Homo sapiens: one gene and its partners. The protein of the gene in region 4 interacts with the protein of the main gene of each other region in a pairwise test. Each region holds a gene or a part of one and is shown on either strand. Other genes may lie near its edges. The genes, in order: PRKCG, CCDC102B, CCDC57, TCP10L, MAPK9, LMO3 and BACE2.

The links.
Region 1: the proteins of TCP10L (region 4) and PRKCG interact in binary tests that used the Homo sapiens proteins (3 or more experiments, as listed by UniProt).
Region 2: the proteins of TCP10L (region 4) and CCDC102B interact in binary tests that used the Homo sapiens proteins (3 or more experiments, as listed by UniProt).
Region 3: the proteins of TCP10L (region 4) and CCDC57 interact in binary tests that used the Homo sapiens proteins (3 or more experiments, as listed by UniProt).
Region 5: the proteins of TCP10L (region 4) and MAPK9 interact in binary tests that used the Homo sapiens proteins (3 or more experiments, as listed by UniProt).
Region 6: the proteins of TCP10L (region 4) and LMO3 interact in binary tests that used the Homo sapiens proteins (3 or more experiments, as listed by UniProt).
Region 7: the proteins of TCP10L (region 4) and BACE2 interact in binary tests that used the Homo sapiens proteins (3 or more experiments, as listed by UniProt).

What each region holds. Positions count from the first base shown.
Region 1 is NC_000019.10:53,885,197-53,888,696, reverse strand, and holds part of PRKCG (protein kinase C gamma type), read right to left. Parts: intron 1-3,500. UniProt on the Homo sapiens protein: Calcium-activated, phospholipid- and diacylglycerol (DAG)-dependent serine/threonine-protein kinase that plays diverse roles in neuronal cells and eye tissues, such as regulation of the neuronal receptors GRIA4/GLUR4 and GRIN1/NMDAR1, modulation of receptors and neuronal functions related to sensitivity to opiates, pain and alcohol, mediation of synaptic function and cell survival after ischemia, and inhibition of gap junction activity after oxidative stress.
Region 2 is NC_000018.10:68,796,696-68,800,879, reverse strand, and holds the start of CCDC102B (coiled-coil domain-containing protein 102B), read right to left. Parts: upstream 2,801-4,184; 5' UTR 2,699-2,800; intron 2,610-2,698; exon of another isoform or gene 2,428-2,609; intron 1-2,427. UniProt on the Homo sapiens protein: During interphase, forms fibers at the proximal ends of centrioles to maintain centrosome cohesion. During mitosis, dissociates from the centrosome following phosphorylation to allow centrosome separation. Contributes to CROCC/rootletin filament formation.
Region 3 is NC_000017.11:82,195,843-82,199,342, reverse strand, and holds part of CCDC57 (coiled-coil domain-containing protein 57), read left to right. Parts: intron 1-918; exon of another isoform or gene 919-920; coding exon 921-1,029; intron 1,030-2,246; exon of another isoform or gene 2,247-3,500. UniProt on the Homo sapiens protein: Pleiotropic regulator of centriole duplication, mitosis, and ciliogenesis. Critical interface between centrosome and microtubule-mediated cellular processes. Centriole duplication protein required for recruitment of CEP63, CEP152, and PLK4 to the centrosome.
Region 4 is NC_000021.9:32,579,024-32,582,523, forward strand, and holds part of TCP10L (T-complex protein 10A homolog 1), read right to left. Parts: intron 3,393-3,500; coding exon 3,177-3,392; intron 1-3,176. Other genes in the region: CFAP298-TCP10L (uncharacterized protein LOC110091775), read right to left, coding at 3,177-3,392. UniProt on the Homo sapiens protein: May be involved in transcriptional regulation. Has in vitro transcription inhibition activity. Acts as a tumor suppressor in hepatocellular carcinoma (HCC) cells.
Region 5 is NC_000005.10:180,247,084-180,250,583, forward strand, and holds part of MAPK9 (mitogen-activated protein kinase 9), read right to left. Parts: intron 2,056-3,500; coding exon 1,890-2,055; intron 844-1,889; coding exon of another isoform or gene 772-843; intron 646-771; coding exon of another isoform or gene 617-645; exon of another isoform or gene 580-616; intron 428-579; coding exon 356-427; coding exon of another isoform or gene 315-355; exon of another isoform or gene 1-314. UniProt on the Homo sapiens protein: Serine/threonine-protein kinase involved in various processes such as cell proliferation, differentiation, migration, transformation and programmed cell death.
Region 6 is NC_000012.12:16,557,663-16,561,162, forward strand, and holds part of LMO3 (LIM domain only protein 3), read right to left. Parts: intron 2,877-3,500; coding exon 2,751-2,876; intron 1-2,750.
Region 7 is NC_000021.9:41,174,660-41,178,159, reverse strand, and holds part of BACE2 (beta-secretase 2 isoform A preproprotein), read right to left. Parts: intron 2,930-3,500; exon of another isoform or gene 1-2,929. UniProt on the Homo sapiens protein: Responsible for the proteolytic processing of the amyloid precursor protein (APP).

The DNA of each region.
Region 1 (3,500 bases), on a different chromosome or scaffold from region 4:
CAGGAGGCCTAAATAAAATAATTGGTGTACAAAACATAGCTGTGCCTACCACGTTAGATGCTCCCAATACTATTACTGTGGTTATTGTTAGGGATTTTATTGAAGTCCCTACATAGCCCTGAATGTAAGTAAGAGCTAGGCCGCTTCTCAGCTGTGTGATTTGGGGCAAGTTCATTCCCAGTTTTGAGCCTCAGCATCCTCCTCTGTCAAGTGGAAATAAATAATCTATATTTTGAAGCAATGCTAAATTTCCAGAGTCCATTAAGCAAGAATGCAGGTCATCAGTGAAGCTTCTCCTTCTCCCCTGCCACCCACTACCCCCGGGACAATATCTGCTTGTTAAATAACTTGATTCTAAGAATCCATTAAAAGGATTATCACAGGGTGAACATTTAGGCCATTCTTGGATTTTCATCTATGTTAGTGGGGTTTCTAGTTTGAATATATATTTGGGTAGAGGAGGGTGTTGGCAGTTTCCAGGATCCTTTTCAATGTGCTGGGCTTCTAAATATCTCCGCTGACCCTAACTCAAAGGGTTCCTGCCGCACTAAATAAGATGCTGTGTGTGAAGGTTCTCAGCAGGCTGCCTGACACACAAACCATCCACAGACAGAGGCTGCTGTTCTTATTCTCAAAAGTGAACGTCGCTGTTAAAAAGGAGACAGCACGGAGGCTGTGGTTACATACATCAGAGTTCAAATCTTGCCTCTATCCCCTACCCAGCTAGGTGGCCTCACCACGCCTGCCCCTTTTCAAAGCCTCAGATTTACCGCTTGAAAAGTGGGGGCATGTGCCCTCCCTGGGGACTAAATGAAATCATTCTTGCCAAATCTTGATCCATGTTACTTTTTTTTTTTTTTTTTTTTTGAGATGGAGTCTCACTCTGTCGCCCAGGCTAGAGTGCAGTGGTGTGATCTCGGCTCACTGCAACCTCTGCCTCCGGGGTTCAAGCGATACTCCTGCCTCAGCCTCCCGAGTAGCTGGGACTACAGGCGCGTGCCACCGTGCCTGGCTAATTTTTTGTATTTTTAGTAGAGACGGGGTTTCACCGCGTTAGCCAGGATGGTTTGGATCTCCTGACCTCGTGATCCGCTTGCCTCAGCCTCCCAAAGAGCTGGGATTACAGGCATGAGCCACCATGCCTGGTCAAGGCATGTTACCTTTTTTTTTTTTTTTTTTTTTTTTTTTTTTTTTTTTTTGAGACAGAGTTTTGTTCTTGCTGCCCAGGCTGGAGTGCAATGGCGCAATCTTGGCTCACTGCAACCTCCGCCTCCTGGGTTCAAGTGATTCTCCTGCCTCAGCCTCCTGAGTAGCTGGGATTACAGGCGTGTGCCACCACGCCCAGCTAATTTTGTATTCTTAGTAGACACGTGGCTTCTCCATGTTGGTCAGGCTGGTCTCGAACTCCCAACCTCAGGTGATCCACCCGCCTCGGTCTCCCAAAGTGTTGGGATTACAGGCGTGAGCCACTGTGCCTGGCCTGCATGTTACTTTTAAGAAGATCAACTGCCAGCAGTGAATCACTTGAGCCCCGGAGGTCAAGACTGCAGTGAGCAGTGATAGCACTATTGCACTCCAGCCTGGGCAACAGAGTGAGACCCTGTCTCAACAGCAAAAAAAAACAAAAACAAAAAAACCCCCGAGTGATGCAGAGGAAAGATCTCCTTCTCACTATTCACTCGTTTCCTCATTGGTCATAATAATAATTTTAACAAGAATAAAAAATAATATTTTGGCTCTTGCTATGTGTCAGAAACCATCCCAAATGTCTGACTCACTAAATCTTCAAAACAATCCATAGTGAGCATAATTATCATCTCCACTTTACAAACAAGGAATTCAACAAGTGCAGAGAGGTAAATTAACTCAGGAAATGTCACAGAACCAAAAAGTGGTGGAGCTGGGATTCAAACCAGATAGACAGGGAAAAATAACCAAATAAGCTGTTGTGTGGATCCAACCTATACTGTATACAAAATACTTGAGGCCAGGTGCAGTGGCTCACGCCTGTAATCCCATCATTTTGGGAGGCTGAGGCAGGAGAATCGAGTGAGACCAGGAGTTGAAGACCAGCCTGGGCAATATAGTGAGTGAGACTCCATCTCTACAAAAACATTTTTTTTTAATTAGCTAGGTGTTGTGGCTTGTGCCTATAGTCCCAGCTACTTGAGAAGCTGGGGCAGGAGGAGCACTTGAGCCTGGAGAATTCAAGGCTGCAGTGAGCTATGATCCCATCACTGTACTCCAGTCTAGGTGACAGAGTGGGACCCTGTCTCAAAAAACCCCAAAAATCGGCTGGGTGCGGTGGCTCACGCCTGTAATCCCAGCACTTTGGGAGGCCGAGGTGGGTGGATCACGTGAGGTCAGGAGCAAGACCAGCTTGGCCAGCATGATGAAACCCTGTCTACTAAAAATATAAAAATTAGCCGGCCATGGTGGCTCATGCCTGTTCTAGTCCCAGCTACTCGGGAGGCTGAGGCATGAGAATCGCTTGAACCTGGGAGGTAGAGGTTGCAGTGAACCAAGATTGCACCAGTGCACTCCAGCCTGGGTGACAGAGTGAAACTCCATCTAAAAAATACCCCAAAATCAAACAAAACAACAAAAACAAAAAAAAATCTTTTTTTTTTTTTCCAAGACAAAGTCTTGCTCTGTCACCCAGGCTGGAGTGCAGTGGCGTGATCTTGGCTCACTGCAACCTCTGCCGCTCAGGTTCAAGCAATTCTGCCTCAGCCTCCCGAGTAGCTGGGATTACAGGCAAAAAACAAAAAAAAAAATCTTGATGAGTGTACCCAATGAGCACTGGATGCATCAGACTTATCTGGTGTTGGTGGCGGAGGTGAGTGGACGAGGGGGGTCATCAATCACATACACGTGCTGGTAGACAGTGGTGCTCAATATATGTTCTATGAAGTCACATCTTCTATGTAGACTTCTGTTATTTTCAGCTGAGAGGGTGGTAAAACGCCTCATGGACTTCTGTGGATCTCTCTCTCTCTGCCTCTCTCTCCATCTGTACATCATAAAACTGTCTCCGATCTTGTGTCAAACCCTGGGCGAAACTCTGAACCCACCTGACTTCAAAACAAGCCTGGAAGTGTCCAGATGTGTGCTGTCCCATTTGGTGGCCACTAACTACATGTGGCTGTTTAAATTTAAGTCAGTTCTGCCGGGCGCGGTGGCTCACGCCTGTAATCCCAACACTTTGGGAGGCCGAGGCGGGTGGATCACAAGGTCAGGAGTTCGAGACCAGCCTGGCCAACATGGTGAAACCCCATCTCTACTAAAAATACAAAAAAAATTAGCGGGGTGTGGTGGCATGCGCCTGTAGTCCCAGCTACTCAGGAGGCTGAGGTAGAAGAATTGCTTGAACCTGGGAAACGGAAGTTGCATTGAGCTGAGACTGCGCCACTGCACTCCAGCTTGGGCAACAGAGCGCGACTCCGTCTCAAAAAATAAAAATAAAAAAAAAAAATTTAAGCCAATTCAAATGACACGAA
Region 2 (4,184 bases), on a different chromosome or scaffold from region 4:
AACATGTTAATAAATAAGTTCTATTCTTTTTTACTGTGAATGTACTGTATTTCACACTATCTATTACAATGTGAATTTTATTTATGCTTTTCACCTATTGAAATGAAACTTATACAATGCCTTTATTTGATAATAACTTGGTCATTCCATAGTTTTAAGAGTATTTGGTCGCTGAGTGTTCGTTGATACCATGTATCAAAAAGAAACAGAGGAAAGTCAGTACATCCCCAGTGTTATTCCTGGCCACCTCACACATCTCATTTGTGAATAGGTAATATTCAGTGCAAATCAGTGATGACATTTTCTTTGAGAATGCAAAAGATACCTTCTCTAAGTAGATTTAAGAAAATGTAAGAGAGAGAAAAGCATAAGTGTTGAATCTGAGGGCCGCTAATTTAAATGTAAAAATTACCCCTTATTTGCAGCGTCAGTCTCTTCTCTCAATTCCCAAAGGAAAAGTGTGGCCCAACTGATAGAACAGTAATTCGTCTGGATTTATAGAATATCGGAATGGATCTTTGGGCTGTTGTCTCACGACCTCCTCCCTGCACCCTAAAATCCCAGTGTCCACTTCAAACCATTCTGCTCGACTTCTGCCAGATTCACATTCCTAGAATACCAGCACAACATCGTGGAAATAGCTCTGGAGCCAGAAAGACATTATTTGAAATTCTGGTTCCCTCACTTTCTTTATCTGTGGCTTTAAGCAAATCATTGAACGTTTCTGAACAGCAGGTTCCTTCAAGTGCAAAATGAAAATAATGTGTAAAATAATGTTCATTTTCTTGCAAAGCTATCAAAATTGTGGATATGTATGTAAATCACCTTGCAAGCAGAAAATGCTATTATGTGTTGGCAAAATGATGATGATGATGATTATGGTAAAGATGATGAAAAGAGGCACAGATACTCCACCTCTTTTCAGAAACTTGCAATTGTCCCCTTTGTATGATATGTAAAGGCCACATTTTTCTGTGTGCAATGTTAAGATGCTCTATCAATTTTTCCTGTTCTATGTATTGAGTACAACGTCTGATACTCACAAAGGTATATTTTTTCTGCTCCAATCAGATAAATTACTCACCATTCTTTTATGCTCTATGCTAATTTGTGTTCAAAACCCTTTTTGCCAATTACTTCTTCAAAGTAGAGTATTCCTCTTGCTTTCAGCACCTATCCAAGTTCCACTAGTTTTTCAAGACTAAGTTCAAGAAGTTGAACTTTTCTTTAAAGCCTCTGGCATCTCTTTAGGACTCACATACCTGCTAAAAAGGGAATTTCTGAATATTTTGGCATTATGGCAGAATTCAATTGGTCTTGTAATATCAGCATAAGAGATATGACGACCTGAGAGCATTTCTTGTATTTTAAGAATTACAGCCATTGTTTTGTAACTGTAATAATTAGATGAAACATTCATAAATTACCTTGAAGCCAAACCCATAGTGAGGCCCAGAAACAATGTCCCAGTGATCAAGCAATTATTGAATCCAATGATAACATATGAAGGATGCAAAAGAGAGACAATGAAATTATCTATGATTTCATAAGAACATAGGATATTTTGGAAAATAAAGCAATTCACATAAAGCATTTTTCTGAATATATTCAAATAGGTCACACAAACCTACACAGATATTGTATCGCTAACTTATAAATCTTCTTTCTAATTTATTGCTTTCATTAAAATATGAAATAGAATTCAAGAATATTTACTGGATATATAAAAATATTTATTGGCAATAACATATTTTACTAACAAGAGAATATTTACTCAAAAGTTGTAATAACACCATTTCCCATGAAAATTATTAGCAAAAACACATTCACATTATTTTAGAAAACAGAAAAACTGGTATTGATGTAAATAAGAATATCAATAAATATTTTATATATTTTGGTCCTATGTTACTGACATATTTCTAATTATATTTTTTGACGAATCTTTCTTATATTTATATTTAATAAATGTACTCACTTGACATTCAATTGATAATTTATCTTTGCAGAAAACGTAAGCAAATGCTTCCCAAAGGTTTCCAGAGATTTTTTTTCAGTTTTATAATTTACTTCTATATAGCTAAGCATTACTTTTTATTATGCACAGGATTTTATTATTTTATTCTGTATCCCTGTCTCCTCCACACTATACAGGTAGCATGTAAAGAAATCAATATTCATGCTAAGTTTGAAATATACTTTCCATTAACGAATACAAGAATTTAGCATGAAGACTCAACAATTGAAAAGAATTCAAGGTACATGAGGCATAGATAGGAGGATTTCCATAACAATTTTACTTTTTTACTGTAAGAATATAGATTACTTCAAACACAATGACTAATTCACATTCATTTGGAACAATGAAACAAAATTTTAATATCAACATATACTATTACTGTCTAAATGTAGAGTCGAAATTCTTACCTGAGTTTTGCTTAGTATACAGTTATTTTTTAAAGACAGGAAATGTATGACAAATTGTCAGGATAATAACACCCACAGTGGAAAAATGAAAGGGGAAAGGAAGGAATCACTTTAAAAAGAAACTCCAAATCCTTCTGCTTCCCAGCTCTACAGTAGTTTTGCTCTGCATCTTGTAAGCAACTGTCTTTGCTCTGAGAACAACACATGCTGTACCTCAGCAGGAAAATATAAAAATTAAATAGAAAACCACAAGGTTATTAAACACTCTTACCCTCTGGGCTTGCTGGGCTGCTCCAGTGTCTCAGTTGCAGCCACATGTGTAAACAACAGAATTTCCTGCATCCTTTTCTCATCCGTACAGTTCTGGAGTCCTAGCCAACAGGATTATTTCCAGCATTAAGGGCACTCCACACAAACTCAAAAAAGATTCCCATTGGTTGTGAAGTTTTATTGAAACCACTACCACAACCCCCTCTTTGGATCACCATTGAGCCAACCAAAATAAAACCATTTTTAATGTTCCCTAAGTATGGTTATCCAAAGCTTTCCATACAACCATTTGAAACCTGTACTGTGGATGAAAAAGAAAAAGACACCCACGCCTTGATCCACAAGTGTTCTTAATGTTTAATTACAACAGTATAACTTGTAATAATAATAGAAAAACTAAAATAGCAAAGCAAAAAAAAAAAAAAGCCCAGGAAGTACCTATCTGAAAAATATTTAAAAGGAAATTATACTGCACATTACAGGAACAATATAAAATATTCATCCAATCTGATTTGCATTAGATTGCACAAAAGCAAAAGAAATCATATTTAATAAAAGATTTGAGTATACAAATCATGAAACAATAACTGCATGTCAAAACCCTTGATTGTGGTCACATTGGCAGGAATTGTGAGCTGTAGTCCCCGGGGTGCCCAGTGAAAGCTCTCTGGCCCCTTTCCCTGGGGAAAAAGAATATGAAGTAGCTTTCCATTGACATGACTCAGCTGTCAGGAAGTGTTCTGATGGGGGTTGAGGGGGGAGGCGAGAGATCACATAAAAAAGAGCTTCTCTGGTTGAAACTAGCAGCAAAAAAATGTCCAAAGTAAAAAAGAAAAGTCAAAAGGTAACAGGATAGCCTTGCTCCTTTTAAGTAGCAAAAAAACAACATTTGAAATTTAGGCAATAAATGTCTTCAAATTATTTTATTTTTCACCCTTCCCTAATTTGTAGGCTTATTACGGTGTTATCATCTATCTCTACTTAACATTCTTTTCCCACTTACTTTCTGATGCAATGGAAAAGGTGGCCATCTTCCTGTATAAAGCCAATTGACCCATCGAGCTAAACTTAATCATGATTCTCTCTCCTCTATCTTTGAACGTTCCCTCCTGTCCGGATTTTCCCCACGTGATGTTAAATACCATACATTCTCTAGTCAATTTCATGTATGCCAATGAACTTTACTTTTAATTCAGTCATTTTCACTTTCAGGTACCATTCTTTCTGTCATGGCCAAATGATTGAAAGTTCTCCAGCCAAGAATTTTATTTAGTCTTGCATCCACCTGATTTTAATTCATCAAAGTGACAATACACACACACACACACACACACACACATGCATGTACATAAATATTCTATTTATTTTTAATTTTTCTAACTCACCTCAATCCTTCTAGTTGACATCTACACAGCCTTTCATACTGTTCACAACCCTGCCCACATGAAGACATCTCTTGTCTTGGCATAACACTCTCCTGGTTTTCC
Region 3 (3,500 bases), on a different chromosome or scaffold from region 4:
CCATGCCCGGCTAATTTTTGTATTTTTAGTGGAGATGGGGTTTCACCATGTTGGCCAGGCTGGTCTTGGACTCCTGACCCCGGGTGATCCACCTGCCTTGGCCTCCCAAAGCGCTGGAATTACAGGCGTGAGCCACCACACCCAGCCTGCTATAGCTTTTTCTTTGCTGAGATTTGTTTTTCCATTTGCTTTACTAGATTACTTGAAGCGCTTTTATAATGACTGCTGTAGCTTCCTTGTTGAAGAATTCCAGCGTCTGTGTCATCTTGGTGTTGGCATCTACCTATTATCTTTTCTCCTTCAAGCTCAGATCTTTCTTTTTTTTCCTTTTTCTTTTTTTTTTTTTTTTTGAGATGGAGTCTCGCTCTGTCGCCCAGGCTGGAGTGCAGTGGCACGATCTCAGCTCACTGCAAGCTCCACCTCCCGGGTTCACGCCATTCTCCTGCCTCAGCCTCCCGAGTAGCTGGGACTACAGGCGCCCGCCACCACGCCCGGCTAATTTTTTTTGTATTTTTTTGTAGAGACGGGGTTTCACCGTGTTAGCCAGGATGCTCTCGATCTCCTGACCTTGTGATCCGCCCACCTCGGCCTCCCAAAGTGCTGGGATTACAGGCGTGAGCCACTGGGCCTGGTCAGATCTTTCCGGTTTTTGGTTGTCAGGTTTTTTTTTTAATTGTATCCTGGACATTTTGGGTTTTATGTTGTGAGACTCTGGGCCCTATTTAATTTCCTCTTTTATAGATGGGTGTAGCATGCTGGTCCAGGTGGGGCTGGAAGTTCTGCTACCCCGTGGGTCCTGCTGAAGCCACCCCTTCATAAAAGCAAAGCACCAACTTTCACATGTCAAGTGCACCTTGAAAATGTATTACCTTTGCTGAATATTTGGTATGGCTTTTCTTAATGCTGTTTTATTACCATAGTGACAAGAATGGTGAGATTGACCACCACCGGGAACAGTATGAAAATCTAAAATGGACACTGGAGAGAAAACTTGAGGAGCTCGACGGTGAGCTTGCTCTGCAGAGACAGGTAGAGCCTCTGGGTCGGCCCCTTCCTGGGTGCTTTCCCTGCCTGCCCACTGTGAAACTGAAATCATATAGGGCTGAGGAAAAGACAACCATTTGGTTCATTGCCTGCATTCTCCTTGGGAGTAAAATGGGGTCTTTGGGGCAGATGCCACTCTGGGATGGTCTGCAGGGAAACAGGATGGGATGTCTACATGCAGCCACCTCCACAGTGTTTCCTTGTTTTCTTTCCTCATGGATTAGTCAGGGTTCTCCAGGGAAACAGGCAATAGGAGACGTGTAGATATATAGGAGATAAATTGTAGGAATTCACTCGTGCAGTTACGGAGGCCATGAAGTCCCACAGTTTGTCATCTGCAAGCTGGAAAACCTGGGAAGCTGGTGGTGTAATTCAGCCCAGGGGCAAAGGCCTGAGCACCAGGGAGCCACTGATGTGAGTCCTGGTCCAGCTCTGAAGGCCCAAGATGCAGGAGCCCAATGTCCAAGGGCAGGAGAAGGCGAGTGTCTCAGCTCAAGCAGAGAGAGCGAGTTCACCCTTCCTTGCATTTCGTTCTATTCAGGCCCTCAGTGGATTGAATGACGCCCATCCACAGGAGGAGGGCTAGTCTCTTCTGGAAACACCCTTGCAGACACTCCCAGAAATAATTTTTTACCAGCTATCCGGGCAGCCCGTAGCCCAGTCATTTGACACATGGAATTAACCAGCACACCTCAGAAATGATGAAACTTTTAAATTTATTTTTAGAAAGGTATAATTTTAAAAACATGAATTATTTACTATGGAAAAGAATTTGGAATTCAATTATGATAAGTTTAAAAACAGATGCTTCAACTGAAAAGTGGCAGTCACCGAATTTCTCCTCAATGTTCTGGAAACTCAGCCTACACCTCCAAGAGACTCAGCTGTGCTGGGGTTTTGTTGAAAGACATCCTATAGATTTATATCTAGAGACCACAGTCAGAGATGCTGCCACTGTGTGCATATGTGACAAGGGGCTGCATCTCTGCAGGTTTACGTGTGATGAGGGGCTGTGCCTGTGCAGGTGCAGGTGTCATGAGGGGCTGCGTCTCTGCAGGTGCAGGTGTCACGAGGGGCTGCGTCTCTGCAGGTGTCATGAGGGGCTGCGTCTCTGCAGGAGTCACGAGGGGCTGCGTCTGCAGGAGTCACGAGGGGCTGTGTCTCTGCAGGTGCAGGAGTCATGAGGGGCTGTGTGTCTGCAGGTGCAGGAGTCACGAGGGGCTGCGTCTCTGCAGGAGTCACGAGGGGCTGCATCTCTGCAGGAGTCATGAGGGGCTGCGTCTGCAGGAGTCACGAGGGGCTGAGTCTCTGCAGGAGTCACGAGGGGCTGCGTCTCTGCAGGTGCAGGAGTCACGAGGGGCTGCGTCTCTGCAGGTGCAGGAGTCACGAGGGGCTGCGTCTCTGCAGGTGCAGGAGTCATGAGGGGCTGCGTCTCTGCAGGAGTCACGAGGGGCTGCGTCTCTGCAGGTGCAGGAGTCATGAGGGGCTGCGTCTCTGCAGGTGTCCTGAGGGGCTTCTTCTGTGAAGGTGCAGGTGTGATGAGGGGCTGCGTCTCTGCAGGTGCAGGTGTAATAAATGGCTCTGTCTATGCAGGTAGGTGTAAGTGTTACTAGAAGCTGTGTCTATGGGGGTGTCATAAGGGGCTGCGTCTGTGCAGGTGCAGCAGTGATGAAGGGCTTTGTGCAGGTGTGACAGGGTCCCCTCTCTGGTCCTGTCGGATGTTGGGAGCTTGGTCATAGTAGGATAGGCCAGTGTGTCACTAATTTGCCACAGTCAGGTCAGCAGAGAAGGAGGCCACGCTCACGTCATGATGGGCCCTCCTGTGGACTGTCCAGTTGTCCCCGGAAGTGCTGAGCTCACTCCCGTTGTTCACAGGTCCCTGAGGCTGCTTCTGAAATGGCCTGCAGAGGACTTTCTCTTGGAATTCTCAGAAACCAAAGAGCTTTGTCGATTATGGATGAGTTTGAGAACAGCCGGAGTTCTTTAGGCATGAAGCCAGCGTCTAAAATCCGTGGTCAGTAAGAGACCAGTGGTGACTTTTCTAAGTAGTGAGGCTTCCTCAAGTGGCTCCAAAGTCACTTCCAAAGAAGGAGTTTGAGGAGGATCCAGCTGTGGGTGGTCCTGCCCAGCAGGTGGGGGGCTCTTGGCAGCATCTGGGGACAGTGGCGATTTGAGGCTGGTTGTAGTTGGCAGGGCGCAGCCATTCTTGTCAGAGTTTCTGGCTGGGCCGTGACTATGGCTGACTTCCCAGGCTGTCCACGCCGAATTTCTCAGACTCAGCAGGGCTCGTTCAGGGAGAGCCATCTCAGACGTTGGGAACATGGATTTTTTATCATGTTCAGATAGTATCCTTGTCTCTGGAAAGAAGGAAACGTGACGTTTTAACGTGGCAGCTTTGGTTACTAGGGGAAACTTGGGCAGCACACATCCGGTGTGGTTCTGGGTAGTCCGATCCT
Region 4 (3,500 bases):
GTGGAGCCGATGTTTGCTTTGTGTTTCTTATTGTGGTTCCTTGTTTCAAAATGATCACAGGATCCCAAAGGCTACAGAACAAACAATCCCCAACATATCTTCCTTTAGGCTCCTGTGTCTTCAACCGGGAGTGTGTTAACGGAGGAAGAAAATGTGATACTACTTCTAGTGTTGTCTCTACAACTTGTCTAAGATCCAAAATGCAAATTCCCAACTTTCCCTGTTATCAGCAGACTGACCTGGAACAGGGTGATCCTTCAGGTGGGATGAGGTATATTAGGTCTGGAATGCTAAATTATTCACCGTTCTGCCCTCTGAGGAGGAGAAGGGAATGAGAAGGGGAGAGGGTTGCTATGAACGAACCCTTAATATCAGATCCAGAGTGGCTCACCCACACAGCCATGCCCGCGTTCTGTGGGTGCTCGAGTCTCAGCCTTTTAGATATTCAGTCCCTAAAACGGCGACTACACACAGATACACCTTCGCATATTTAAAGTGTGGGATTCACATATCCCATCCTGTTTCTTCAAATCAGGTATGCTCTTGTGAGCGTACATCCTGTTCTTATAAATAGCCCCACGGTGACCAGTGCAATGCACAGAATGGAAAAATATTTGGAAATTCACCAAGCTCTAATCTCAAAATAAGAGAATGATCAAAACTGCAGGGCATGTGAAGACTGAATAAGACTTCATTGACTCTTAGGGTAATTGTTATACAATGACCCAAATGGGGCAGTAGATACTATTTTTTAGGAACTGGCATACAATATATGTAGGGAAAAAAATCCCTGTGAGTCTTCTTGGGTTCTCCCCACAGAAGGTGGACAATCCCGGCCAGTATTTGTGGCAATTTCCCCCACTCTTCCTCTGACAGAGGAACAGCCTGCCCAGCTTCTGCTCTTCCTTCCGCAGAAGGACTCGGCGCTTTGCTGTGCTGAGAGGCTAAACTCACTTTCTTTCTGAGGCAGCAGAAGCCATCTCCATGGAAACAAAGCTCTCGCAGAGCTCCCGAAGAGTGGGAATAACTTCCAAGATTTCCCGTAATTTCTTGTAGAGGAACTTGTGGCAGTTTTTTTTGTTTGTTTGTTTTGTTTTTTTCAGACGGAGTCTTGCTCTGTCCCCCAGGCTGGAGTGCAGTGGCGCGATCTCGGCTCACTGCAAGCTCCACCTCCCTGATTCAGGCCATTCTCCAGCCTCAGCCTCCCGAGTAGCTGGGACTATAGGCACCCGCCACCACACCTGGCTAATGTTTTTGTATTTTTAGTAGAGACGGGGTTTCACCGTGTTAGCCAGGATGGTCTCAATCTCCTGACCTCACGATCCACCTGCCTCGGCCTCCCAAAGTGCTGGGATTACAGGTGTGAGCCACCGCGCCCAGCTGTGGCTGTTTTTGCTGTGCTTGGAGAACAAACCACAGAGCAGTCTCCTCTGGAATGTATTCGGTGGGTGCCTGTGTGTGTGTGTGTGTGTGTGTGTGTGTGTGTGTGTGTGTTGTAATCACTGTGCTGTATCGGAAATATTCTAAGTCCTGGAAGTACCGATTTAAAAGTTCACACAATAAATGCAGCTAGGAAATGTTAGTACTTTTCTTAATCCACTAAGAAATATCCCCACTTACGTTTGGAGGGTGTTCATGTGGTTTCATGTGTTGTTACCTGTATGTATAATTTTAATGATTCAAGTTATTTAGATCCATATGCAGGAAACAGAACCCAGACAAGGCAGTGATAACACTGGCCACATTCACACTCTCTTAGGCTGGTTCTTTGAGCGGTGTGATCAAACGTGAAAGCTCAGTGTTCTGTAGAGGCAGGCTGGTGCTGGGAGGCACCCACTACTTCAGCATGAGAATGCTGGTTCTTCGTTCGGGATAGAGCAGGTTAGTGATACAGGATGGGGGCAGGAAAGTCCTGGGTGGAGAAGAACGGGGTCCCTGGCTAGGGCTCGACCCCTGGGCCTGTGCCCATGGACCTACGCATTTCTGCTTTTGTGCCCAAATGTTGCATTTCCCAAGACCACCGTGGCCTGCCACACTCCCATCCTATGCCTATAAAAACCCCAAGACCCTAGCGGGCAGAGACCAAGCGGCTGGATGTCGAGAAGAACACACCGGCAGAAGAGCACACCAGCAGACACAGCAGACGCCAGCAGGCCATCGACTGGCGGAATGACACGGAGTTTGCTTGGGGTGGTCAGGGGAGAGCCCGGTCACTGGGCAGCCCAACTCCCAAGGGGAAAACTGCCTTCCCACTCCATCTCCCTTCTGGCTCCCCCATCTGCTGACAGGTATCACCACTCAATAAAAAACCTTGCACCCATCCTCCAAGCCCATGTGTGATCTGATTTTTCAGGTACACCAAGGCAAGAACCCAGGATACAGAAAGCCCTCTGTCCTTGTGATAAGGCAGAGGGTCTAATTGAGCTGATAAACACAAGCTGCCTACGGAGGGGTAAACTGAAAGAGCTCCCGCACTGTAACACACACCCTCTGGGGCTTCAGCTGGAAACATTCACCCCCAGACACTGCCGTGGGGTCAGAGCCCCATAGCCTGCCGGTCTGTACACTCCCCTAGAGGTTTGAGCAGTGGGGAACCAAAGAAGCGAGCCACACCCCCATCGCACACCCTGCGAGGGGGACAAGGGAACTTTTCCCGTTTCAACAGGTCTCTATTGCATTCTACACAGCTGTCCTAGAGGATGAACAGAAGGACACCAGGCTACTGAGCTGGCTCTGGAGTCACCCTGGGTTCAAATCCCAGCTCTACGTTCTCCAGCCCGTGGCCACGATGGGGTTAGTAATAGGATCCATTTCATAGGGTCGTCATAGAGAGTAAGACCGTAAAGCTCCGTACCTAGCCCATGTAAAGTCCACAGTAAGGGTTTGCTGCTGTTGTCCTGAGACATCATGAGATGTCTTAGAATTCTGGACTTGAGACACACGGCCTGGGGGCGGCAATGCTTCTGTCTGCTGGAGTGCCAGGTGAGAGGCCTGATGTATCCAGTTCTTATTAATCATTACTTACGGGAAATGGAGTTGATGGAAAGATAGCAACCCCTCCCACCACCCGGAGCGTGAGTGATACCGCGTCATTCAGCAATAAAGCCCACATCTTTATGGGGACGCTATTTTTACATAACGCAAACGGTACAAAAACATAAATGCGCTTTTGGTACCAGAGTGTGCGATTCTTGCCCCGCGTGTGGGGACGCTGCAGATTTCTTCCTGGCTTTCCACCGCTGCAGCTGCAGAGCTCTCAGCTTTTCTCGGAGCTCCATGTTCTGCTCCCTCAAAGCATCTATATGACTCCGGAGTTTTCCATGAACATCAGCCCACAGAGACTTCTGTCTCCCAAGCTCTTGGTGGAGTCTGATGATCTGCTGCTGTAATGGCTGTTATTGGGAAGAGAACACCAGAAAAACCTCTCAGATGTCACAATGGGCACATTTATCTGCAAAATACTCAAGCCCTCTCTGATGTAAGACCAACACTATTTCTGG
Region 5 (3,500 bases), on a different chromosome or scaffold from region 4:
ACGGAATAAACTAAATAATACAGTATTTTCATTTAAATATCAGAATATACTTATCAAAGAGTAAATAATTTCTTCTATGTGTCCAGCTATTTTTGGCAAAATTAAGAGCTAATATAATCGGTTTAACTGAACTCTAAGTCTCAAAGTCATCACAGGTAGTCAAGTTAAAAATAAAGAATGAAATTGAACCACTTGGCTTGTGACACTAATTAACAAATACAGTAAAGCCCCCCTTAGAACACAGTCTGGAGTGGATTTTACGACTTTGTCCTCGTGAGCGCTCGTGTAAGCAGGTGGTCATGCTGCCTGAGGCATTAAGAAAGCATGGCGGGGCCAAGGTCGCGGGGAAGGATACGGTCAGTGCCTTGGAATATCACACAACCTTTCACCAGCTCTCCCATGATGCAACCCACTGACCAGATATCAACTGAAAATAAAATGAAATGATAAAATTATGAAGTGCCATGAACAAAACAAAAGTGAGGAAAAGGAATTCTAACAGTGCACTAAACACACAAATATGGAAAAATAAATTGCTAGCTAAGGGTGACATTTTACACAATATGAATGATTGCTGACCTCTATTTTAGCCTTCGGTTTGTAGCAATCTGGGGTTTTAGTGCCAAAGAGTCCAATACTTTATAGCTTAAAACAAACAAACAAACAAACAAAAAACCAGAAACAAGAAGTGCCTGTGAACACAAAGCTTTTCAGGGCCACACGCCCACCCCAGCCTCCATGGCCAAGTACCGGGTCCCCTGTGAAGGATACAGTCTCTTCCCGGGAACAGGACTTTATGGAGGACCATTTCTGCCATGATGCACCCGACAGACCAGATGTCCACTACCAAACACCAGGGGATTAAAAACCAGCTAGAGTCCCCCATCTTTTTTCTTCAAACCCCCTCCCAGGACAAACCCGGTACACGTCACTAGCTTGCCGGCGGGAGCCTCTGTGCGTTGTTGATACCACACCTCCTGAGCGATCATTTTCTAGACTGCCCCGTCAGAAAGGCAGCAGCACTCACTGGCGGCACAGGCTGGCTGGCTTGCAGGACTGCAGGTGAGGCCCTGCTAGAGGGGCCCAGACTTCCACGGTGCCCACCCTCATCTGTGGGGCCTCAGACAGACAGCAGAGGCCTCTAAGTGCCCTGCTGGCGGGCCGAGGGGAGAAGTGAACAGGGGATCAAGTTTTCTCTCCCCTCCACAGGAAGCACATGAAGCTGTGCCCCTCAGGGTGGGAACACAAGCTACAACGCAGCAAGATGAACCTGTAGCAAAACTCATTTCAGATGACCCGGGCAAACTTTCAGTCTTTTTAAAAATAAGTAAGCGTGATTTCGTTATTTTCAACAAATTTGCTAAAAGCCAAGTTTCAAAGAGCTCTGATATTGCTAGAATAAGCTAAGTTTTGATGTAAAAAGACACCAATTTTACATGAAAACATGTGTTATTCTATTTACATCAAATTCAAAAAAACAATATGCAGACCAACAAATAAAGCTGATCCATGGTACTGGAGATCAGGAGATTGGCCAGCCTCGTGGGCTGCGAGGAGGGGCCATGGGGAGGCCAGAGCTGCTGCTGCTGTGGGTGTGCTCACCTCAGCTGAGCTGCACACTCAGGATTTGCACACTTGGCTATAGACAGCTTAACTCTGATTAAAAAGTTCAAAAATAACAATTTTAAAAGTGAATTTTTAAAAGAGAATGATTTTAACCAATGGAAAAACACAATTAATTATTTCTTATCTCTGGATCATGCTATATTCTGGGTGTAACAGTCCCCACAGTATATATCATATGGTTCAAAGGAAAGAGAAAAAACTCGAGACCACCGCTAGAGCAATTTCTAAACATCCCAGCCTCTTCCAGCCCCGGCTATACTCACCGTTCTCTTTGTAGCCCATACCCAGGATGACTTCGGGCGCCCGGTAGTACCGTGTCACCACGTAAGGGGTCATCATGAAGTTAGTGCACGCTGTCCGGGCCAGGCCAAAGTCAAGGATCTTCAGGGTGCAGTCTGATTTCACAACAATGTTGCTAGGCTTCAAATCCTAGGAAAGAAATGGCTTAAATTAGTAAAATGAATGAAGCATGCTAAATAAACTACTTCACATCCGTGAGGGTCGTGAAGCCAGTGTGAGAGTGTAGGGAGTGAACTGAACTCTGAGATTTGGGAACAACTTTGGAAAATCTTACTCTCAAATTGAAACTAAAACAAATCAGCCTAAAGCCGTCAGATGGTGCCCCTTACCCCCAGTGGAAACCTTCATGGCCCCCATTTGCCCTTTCTGTGGTCTCGCAGGCCCTCAGGCTGTCCTATCTACCCTCCATCCATGCATCTACACGTCCAGCACACATGCCCCCCTCCCGCTCTCCACGCCTGGACTTGAGTTCCCCAATACTCTGACTCTCTCTTGCTAAGGTCCTCATGCTGTCAGTCCAGCACACACGGCCCCCTCCTGCTCTCCACGCCTGGACTTGAGTTCCCCAATACTCTGACTCTCTCTTGCTAAGGTCCTCATGCTGTCTGTCAGTCCAGGGCAGTGCTGTCCCACAGACAATGTCATATAATGCGAACGATGTGTATAATTTACATTTTCTACTAGCCATGCTCAACAGCATGCAGAAATAGGTGAAATTAATTTTAATCATACAGTATATTTTTTTAACCCAATATATCCATAATATTATCATTTCAAAATGTAATCAACATAAGAAAAATACTGAGATATTTTACATTCTCTTTTTAGTACTGAGCCTTTGAAGTCCAGTATGTATTTTACAACTGCAGCACGGCCACATCCTGAGTGCTCCACAGCCTCCTGTGGTTAGTGGCTGCCATACTGGACAGCACAGGTCTAGAATCGTCTGATCCTGGAATCTTCCCATGGCTCTTTCTCTCCTTGGAAGAGCAATTCCATGATCATCCACCTCCAATCTTCTCACCTTCGCCACAAAGACACGCCAGCACTGGTGCTGCTGTCTCCATCTGTACGTGGCACAAAAACTCACCTGCTCATGTTCTGGTTGCCACCTCTCTTCCCTCCCCAGTGCTGACTCTGTGTGAGCTCTCAGCACTCAGAAGCACGCCTGGCGCGAGCAGACACTTGGGAAGTGTCTGCAGAATGAAGACATGCATCATATTCCACCTGACTTGCAAAGCCTTAACACAACTTCTGCAACCTTTTCCCTCATAACTAAGGGATTTTCTTCCTGCTGATCCTCCACCCTAGCCCCTTCCTCAGGCCTTAGGAATTTGACTTTTGCCTGGGGACTTCGGCCTGCAAACTCACTTGAGAAACTGTGACTTGTAAACAACCCACACCCATTCTTTTCACAAGAGTAGTGCACCTGCAATGTCAAACTGCCAAGCCACTGACATGGCGTAAGGCATGAGGATACTTTACCCAGGAAGTTGCAGGTTCAGTAGCACTGCCTAGCACCTGCCTGTAAGACACCCCAACTGATGGGCCACAAGGGGGGTTGCAGGCGGCAT
Region 6 (3,500 bases), on a different chromosome or scaffold from region 4:
ATTTGGTAAATTATAAAAATAACTAACTTTTGAGAACCAGTTGTGTTCCTGACATTTAACATAAATTATTTTATTGAAGTTTCAGACTCTGCAAGAGAGGTATTAGTGTTTCTATTTTGTAGGTGTGGGAATCAAATTCAGAGAGATTAAGTAACATACTCAAGATCACACAGTTAATATATCAGCTACTATATGGTGGTGCTGAAATCTGAATCTCTTCTCACTATAAATGTCACATTCTTTCTACTATTCTACAGGGTCTCATAAGGTCCATTTTTATATTGATAATACTGATAATATTTACAGCACAAAAACTTTTGAAGATACAACTTATATATCTGATGATAGAAGACATATGTGAAGCTCTGTCCATAAAGCTGAACTCAGAAAAGCTTAAAATATCTTAAAAGAATTTTTAATGGCAGGTAAAAAAGGCACAAAATATAAATTGAGTGAAAAAGTCCAAATATCAAACATTAGGATTCTCCCTTGTAACTTTAATTTGCTTAAATGTGAGTGTAATATTTATACAATGTCATTTGTCCTATAGACATAGGAACATGTATGGCTGGCTATATATCAAAATATTAAAATGTTTTCTTTTAGAAGAATGAGACATGGGACAATGTCTTGTTTTTATCATTTTCTATTTTCTAAATTTCCTACTATGAATATGTAATCTTTTATAAGTAGAAAAGCAATGACTTTATGATTCCATAATGGGAACTGCATGGTTACTGGCTGCTATTAGTTGATCAACATGACAAGTCAACAAAAGTATTCTAAATTTACTACTAAGACACCTTTAAAATGTATAAAATACATATATACATGCACATAAAGGTGTCTGTATGGATGTGGGAATGTTTGTGTTTGTATATCCTTATCCCTACCAAAAACATGTGCATTTGCCAATTTATTTTCGTCTAAATGTTACCCTAGACTGAATGAACTTACTTTGATTCTCAGTACTTGCTGGGAAGAGTCAAGACATTGTAAGATAACATCTTACATGACTGTCTGGGTAACTATTACATTATAAGGTACATTAGGCAACAATCTGAATATCTACATTTAGCAAGAAACACTATTGTGATACATGCCTTGTGGGAAAGTCAAGTTAATGGAATATTATTTGGTAAATTATAAAGATAACTAACTTTTGAGAACCTGTTGTGTTCCTGACATTTAATATAAATTAATTATTTCATTTAAGTTTCAAACTCTGCAAGAGAGGTGTTAGTGTTTCTATTTTATGGGTGTGGGAATCAAATTCAGAGAGATTAAGTAACATACTCAAGATCACACAGCTAATATATCAGCTAATATATGGTGGTGCTGAAATTTGAATCCCGTTCTCACTAGAAATGTCACATTCTTTCTACTATTCTACAGGGTCTCATAAGAAGATTCTGCATCAAATAGTACCTTTCAGAGTAAATTACAATAACTGAGAACTTGATGCAACTAATATTTATTGATTATATACTCTGCCAGGTGTTCTCACAGAAAGTCAGTGAATTCATTTTCATTAAAATCTATCAAGTGTTCTAATTTTTGAAATGTTGTATTTTTAATACGTACATTTTAATGTTCTAAAATCCTCTCCATTTATCATATAAAACAGGTGCCAGTAGTATATAGTTTTCACAGAAATAAAAAATATAACTTTCAATAAGAAAAAATGGAATTAAGTGATAATACTTTTCAGCTGAAAGAATTCTCTGAGATGAACTAATCCAGCTTCATATGTTACAAATGAAAAACCTGAGGTCCAGAGAGGGAAGGTGTTTGTTTGGTTTAAGATCGCACAGCTTATTAGTGGCAGAGCCCATATTAGAATTTAGGTTTCCAGGTTCCCTGTTCAACACTTTTTCAAATGCTCCTCTCCAATGATAATAATTGTTTAATTATTAGCTATATCTGGACTGATTCTCAAAGATATTTGAAGTAACTGCAAAAGTACATATAGGACAGGGTTAAAATTTAAGGTAAACAGCTAGATTGGGTGGGGGTGGTGGCTCATGCCTATAATCCCTGCACTTTGGGAGGTGGAGGTGGGAGGATTGCTTGAGGCCAGGAGTTTGAGACCAGCCTGGGTAACATAGTGAAACTCCATCATCTCTATAAAAAATGAAAAAAAAAAAAAATTAGCCAGGCATGGGAGTGCACACCTGTACTCCCAGCTACTCGGGAGGCTGAGGCAGGAGGATTGCTTGAGCACAGAAGTTGAGGCTGCATGAGCCATGTTAGTGCCACTGCGCTCTAGGCTGGGTGACAGAACCAGACCTTGTATTTAAAAAAGCAAAAACAAAAACATGAGGGATAAGGAATTTAAAATATAAAAAATAATAAGAATATAAAATACCTGCAACAAATTCCTGTATATTTGCTTCATTGCCAATTTATTTACTCACATAAGTAGTATAAAAAAGTAGATATTTAAAACTACTTTTAAAAAGACAGGAAAATAATAAAAGAAGGAATGAGTAAAAGAAGTCAGAGTTTACGGTAGTGTTTCCATTTTCTGTTACTTGCTCTTATATGATGCTTTTCTTTCAGGTAGAAGTAAGTCTTAAGACCTTTCTTCTCCTTAGTAGCTTGTCTCTGGCATGGGATTAAAGTTTACAGAACAGAAAAACGCTGAGATTGATTGCTTTAAATGTATGAATATAATTTCCACCTATTAAATAAATAGCCAGCACAGAGAGGTTAACCATTTCTTAGAGACCAAAAAGAGACCTGCTTACCTCTGATTACAAAGCTGACATGCAAAGCAGTCCAGGTGGTAAACATTGTCCTTGGCACGCATCACCATCTCAAAGGCAGGGATGAGCTTACTACAGGCAGCGCAGTTTCCCGTTACACCAAAGAGCCTAGAATAAGAAACATTTTTTTTTTTTTACAAACTCTTACAGAGAAATCTGAGATCGTGAAGAGAGATGATGTTAATATACTCTGTAAAGCTACAATACACAATGCTTTATGATGTACACAAGTGGATTTTATCCTAGGTGTATGCATAAATATTCTTCTGCAATATATTCTCCGTTGACCTTCCTTGATGAAAATCACATCTTGTTTGAGAAGAAAAGGAAAAGACAAATACATTAGGAAGCTTACGTAACTGCACATAAACAGAAGTCAATGGGGGTGAATTCATAGCAAAAATCTCTGGGTTAGAGTATATAGAAAATATAAAAGCAATATAACTTTGCTCTTAATGTTATATATTAAACATTTTAGTTGGGAAAGGAACCAACTAATGAATGATTCACTACTTTTTGACATTTAGTTACTAAAAGGTTTGCCATTATTATTAAAAATACATTTATGAAGAAGCCATTTAAATAGTCAAAAAACATAGAGGCGCATGCATGCACCTTATGGCTCTATACCATAGTTATAGCTATGATTATGTTATTCAAGTAGCACATTAAAGTAAATGAGGCTGTAAACTATATATAGCTAGACCAGAAATTGAAGGATAATATACTGTC
Region 7 (3,500 bases), 8.6 Mb from region 4:
AACCAGGATTTCTCAATCTTGGCATGGTTGCCATTTTGGACCAGATCGTTCTTTGTTGTGGGGGCTGCCCTGTACGGCAAAGAATGCCGAGCAGCACTTCCAGTCTCCACCCACAGGACGCCAGTAGCACCCTCTAAGTTGTGAGAACTCAAAATGTCCCCAGAGGATGCCAGATGTCCCCTGGGGTGGGGACACAATCACCCCAGGTTGAGATCCATGGAGCCAGGTCTGTTTGCCACCAAGGGGTAAAGCTCCATTCCCACCTTAGGAGGGCTAGGAGGCAGCATCGTGGGGCCACAGAAGGCCTGGGTTTGCAGTCAGAGGACAGGATGCACATTCCTTCAAGATACAGACCCAGATTGTTGGGCATCTAGTTCTTGGGTTTTCTGTTGTTGCTGTTCCGTTTTGTCTGTCTTCCCTCCTTTGTTTACTAGCAGCCTGGAATTTGCCACTTTTTCTAAACGAAGATTTATGGAACACTTACCACACGGCTGACGCTGCGCGAGGCTAAGGTTCTAATACACCGCAGCTCACTTAACTCTCGCAATACCATAAACGCACACTGTTTCATCTTGACCCTTTCTTGGGAAGGTGACAGAGAGGTAGGAGGGCAAACATCTTGTGTGCCCCGTCCCAAGGGTATTACTGGTGGAATAATATCCGCCCCCCACCCCAGTTTCTAATTTGCTGTAGGCTGTGACGCTGTGGGGCAAGACTAGGAGTCCTGTTGAAATTAGGAATAAGTGTGCTGTGAGGGAAGGGCTGCCTTATTTTAGAGCACAGATTTTCTGAATATCTATTTTGACAGGTTCGATCCTCTCCCCTTCCTGCCTTCCTTCTGTCGATTTTCAATGTCTTGATGGTGTCCCACCTGAGTGGCCTTTAGAGATGTGAGTTGTGAGGCACTGGGGAGGCAGGCACACGTCCTCCAGCCCAAGACTGCCTAATTTAACAGGGATTTCTGCATTCTGGAACAAGCCTCCATTTTCCCCAAGCAGGATTACTCCAGAGGGCAAAACACAGCCCAATAGTATCACATTTCCTTTCTGCTTTAGCAAAAATAACCACTGTCTCATTCATGGGAAAAGGCCGCCAAACAAATTTGTTACTGGAACCATTTGTAACAACTTCTAGTTTGCACTGCCTTGGAGCAAGCACACTTTGTAGAGGAGGGATTTGCAGTTACTTGGGCAACAAGGTAACCACTGATCATTACAGGAAGCTTCAGAAACCGTGGGACCAGTGTAGAAGAATGGACTATCTGTCCAAACTAAGAATAAAAAGAATGACACTTGTATTTTGTATGTCTTTTTCACTTTGCCTTTCTAGTAATTCATTTTTCTTGATATTTACACCTTGTGGCCCTGTGATAGACTGGAAATCTCAAAAACACACGTTCAGCACCAAGATTTTCAGCAGCACCGCCTCAGAATGAGACCCCTAGAAAAAACTGCGTGTTTTCCACTTGCCCAACACGAGGAGTTTTTGGAACACGACCTGCTTGAGGTGGAGATTTTCTAGATGGGCAAAGAGAAGGAAACACTTAACCTAGGAAGAGTATTTAGGAAGAAGAAAGAACACAGCCTTTCTGCACAGGAAACCGCCGAGCAGAGGGGCATCTGGCCTCTGCAGTGGCCTCCAAATAGAGTCCAATGGCTGGGGCCAGCGTGGCTGCTTAAAGGGGACTCAAGGGATATAATAAAATGCAGATTCTCAGGTCCTAGTGCAGACAGGCTCACCCAATAAGTCTGGACTGCATATGGGAATCTCTATTTCTAGGCCCTTCTGCAAGGTATTCCTGCTCTTTCCAGGAACCATCGGCAGCTGGTTTGGGGAAAGAAGCAACGACTCCAAGTGTGACCTGTGAGCTGGCAGCAGCCACCCTCAGCTCTGCTCTCGGTCACTGAATCCGATTCTGCATTTTAACAGGACCCCAGGTGTTGCACCCACACAAAGCTGAAGCAGATTGGTCTGGGGGCAAAAAATTAGAGCTATGGAGATTCTCTCAAATGAAATAGATGATATCATTGACTGTTAGAGCTTCTAGAAGGAATCTGAGGTCACTTGTTCAAATTCCCTGATTTACAGATGAGGAAACAGAGGCTCAGACAGCTCAAATGACTTCTCTCCAATACCCAACATTCGACAAGTAGCAGCTCTGGGACTAGTACCCAAAGCACCTAGCTCTCCAATCACTGCGCAAGCCACACAATTCTGTCTGCTTGTCAGTGGCTTTTCTGATTCAAAAAAAGCTTAGGAATTTCCCCAGGAGGCAGCACGATGTAGTGGGAAGGGCTCTGGATGTCTCTCCAAGGCTTCTGGAATTCATGCCCACCTCCACCAAGAAGCCACTTTCCTGCCAGCTACAGGTGCTCACCTGAAAAGCAAGCCAGACCATATTAACCCTGGCATTGCTGGTACCTGGAAGACTTTCTGATTCAATGCTTTCCACCTCCTCCTACCCCTCACCACCCCCGTGGCATGAAATCCTGGGGGCTGCTTTAGAAATTGTTTTCTTTGGCTGCTGGTGGGGGTGCTGCTGGTGGGGGTTTGCACAGCTGGCACACTGCACCAGTCTGGTGGGGGTTTGCACAGCTGGCACACTGCACCAGTCTCCTGCCTGCTGCCAACAAGGCCATTTCCCAAGCACTGGCTTTGGAGAAGTTGGGGCTCTGAAGTGGGAACACAAGGCTGCCTTTTGCAGGCCAGGTGTAAATTCTCCCCCTGCCACTTTCAGCCTAGCGTGAAACAGATGGAGTGTGCATTCCCACTTCCCTTTATGGTACCCTGGAATGATGGAGCTGCCCAGGGCATCGCCACGTTACTCTCTAGACAGTCTCTTTGTCTTCCTGCAATGGCAGCGCCGAGGTTGTATATTTCTAGGTGCAGGTATATGATTGCCATATAATAAAAATCTGAAAACATCCCACCCGGGGCCTGGGCTGGACAGCAAGCATTAGCACAAAACAAACACACTCATTTCATTTCCTTTATGTGGTTAATGTCAGCACTCCCAGAGTATTCTCTCTTCTTTTGAGAATTCTAAGAGCAAAAAAGTGACCACTTTTTTTTGTATTGAGTAGCAATAGTCAAATATCAAATTAGTACATCTAGGCCAAGAGAGGATGAAGGGGAGCCAGGCCAGGAAAGTCACCCAGAAGAGGTGACACTCTCTTCCTCAGGTTCCACCAGAAACATGTTTATACCCAGGGAAATTACAGAAGGGGTGCCAGGCTGCCCACCTGCCTCACAGGTATGCCCTATTGTCCGGGTAGTATCTGTTACCTTAACATACAATGAACCCCAGTGTCTCACCAAGGCTGGGCAAACAGGGTGACCCAGAGGAGGGATCCATGACACACAGCAAGGGACTCAAGGACAGGCAGAGGCTCACAGTCAGTCATAGGAGCCTCAGGTCACCTGGAGAGGGACCTCACTCACCAGCAAGGAGGACCACCACCCCGTTCCTGCTGTACCCAGTGTGGGGTTGGGGCAAGAGT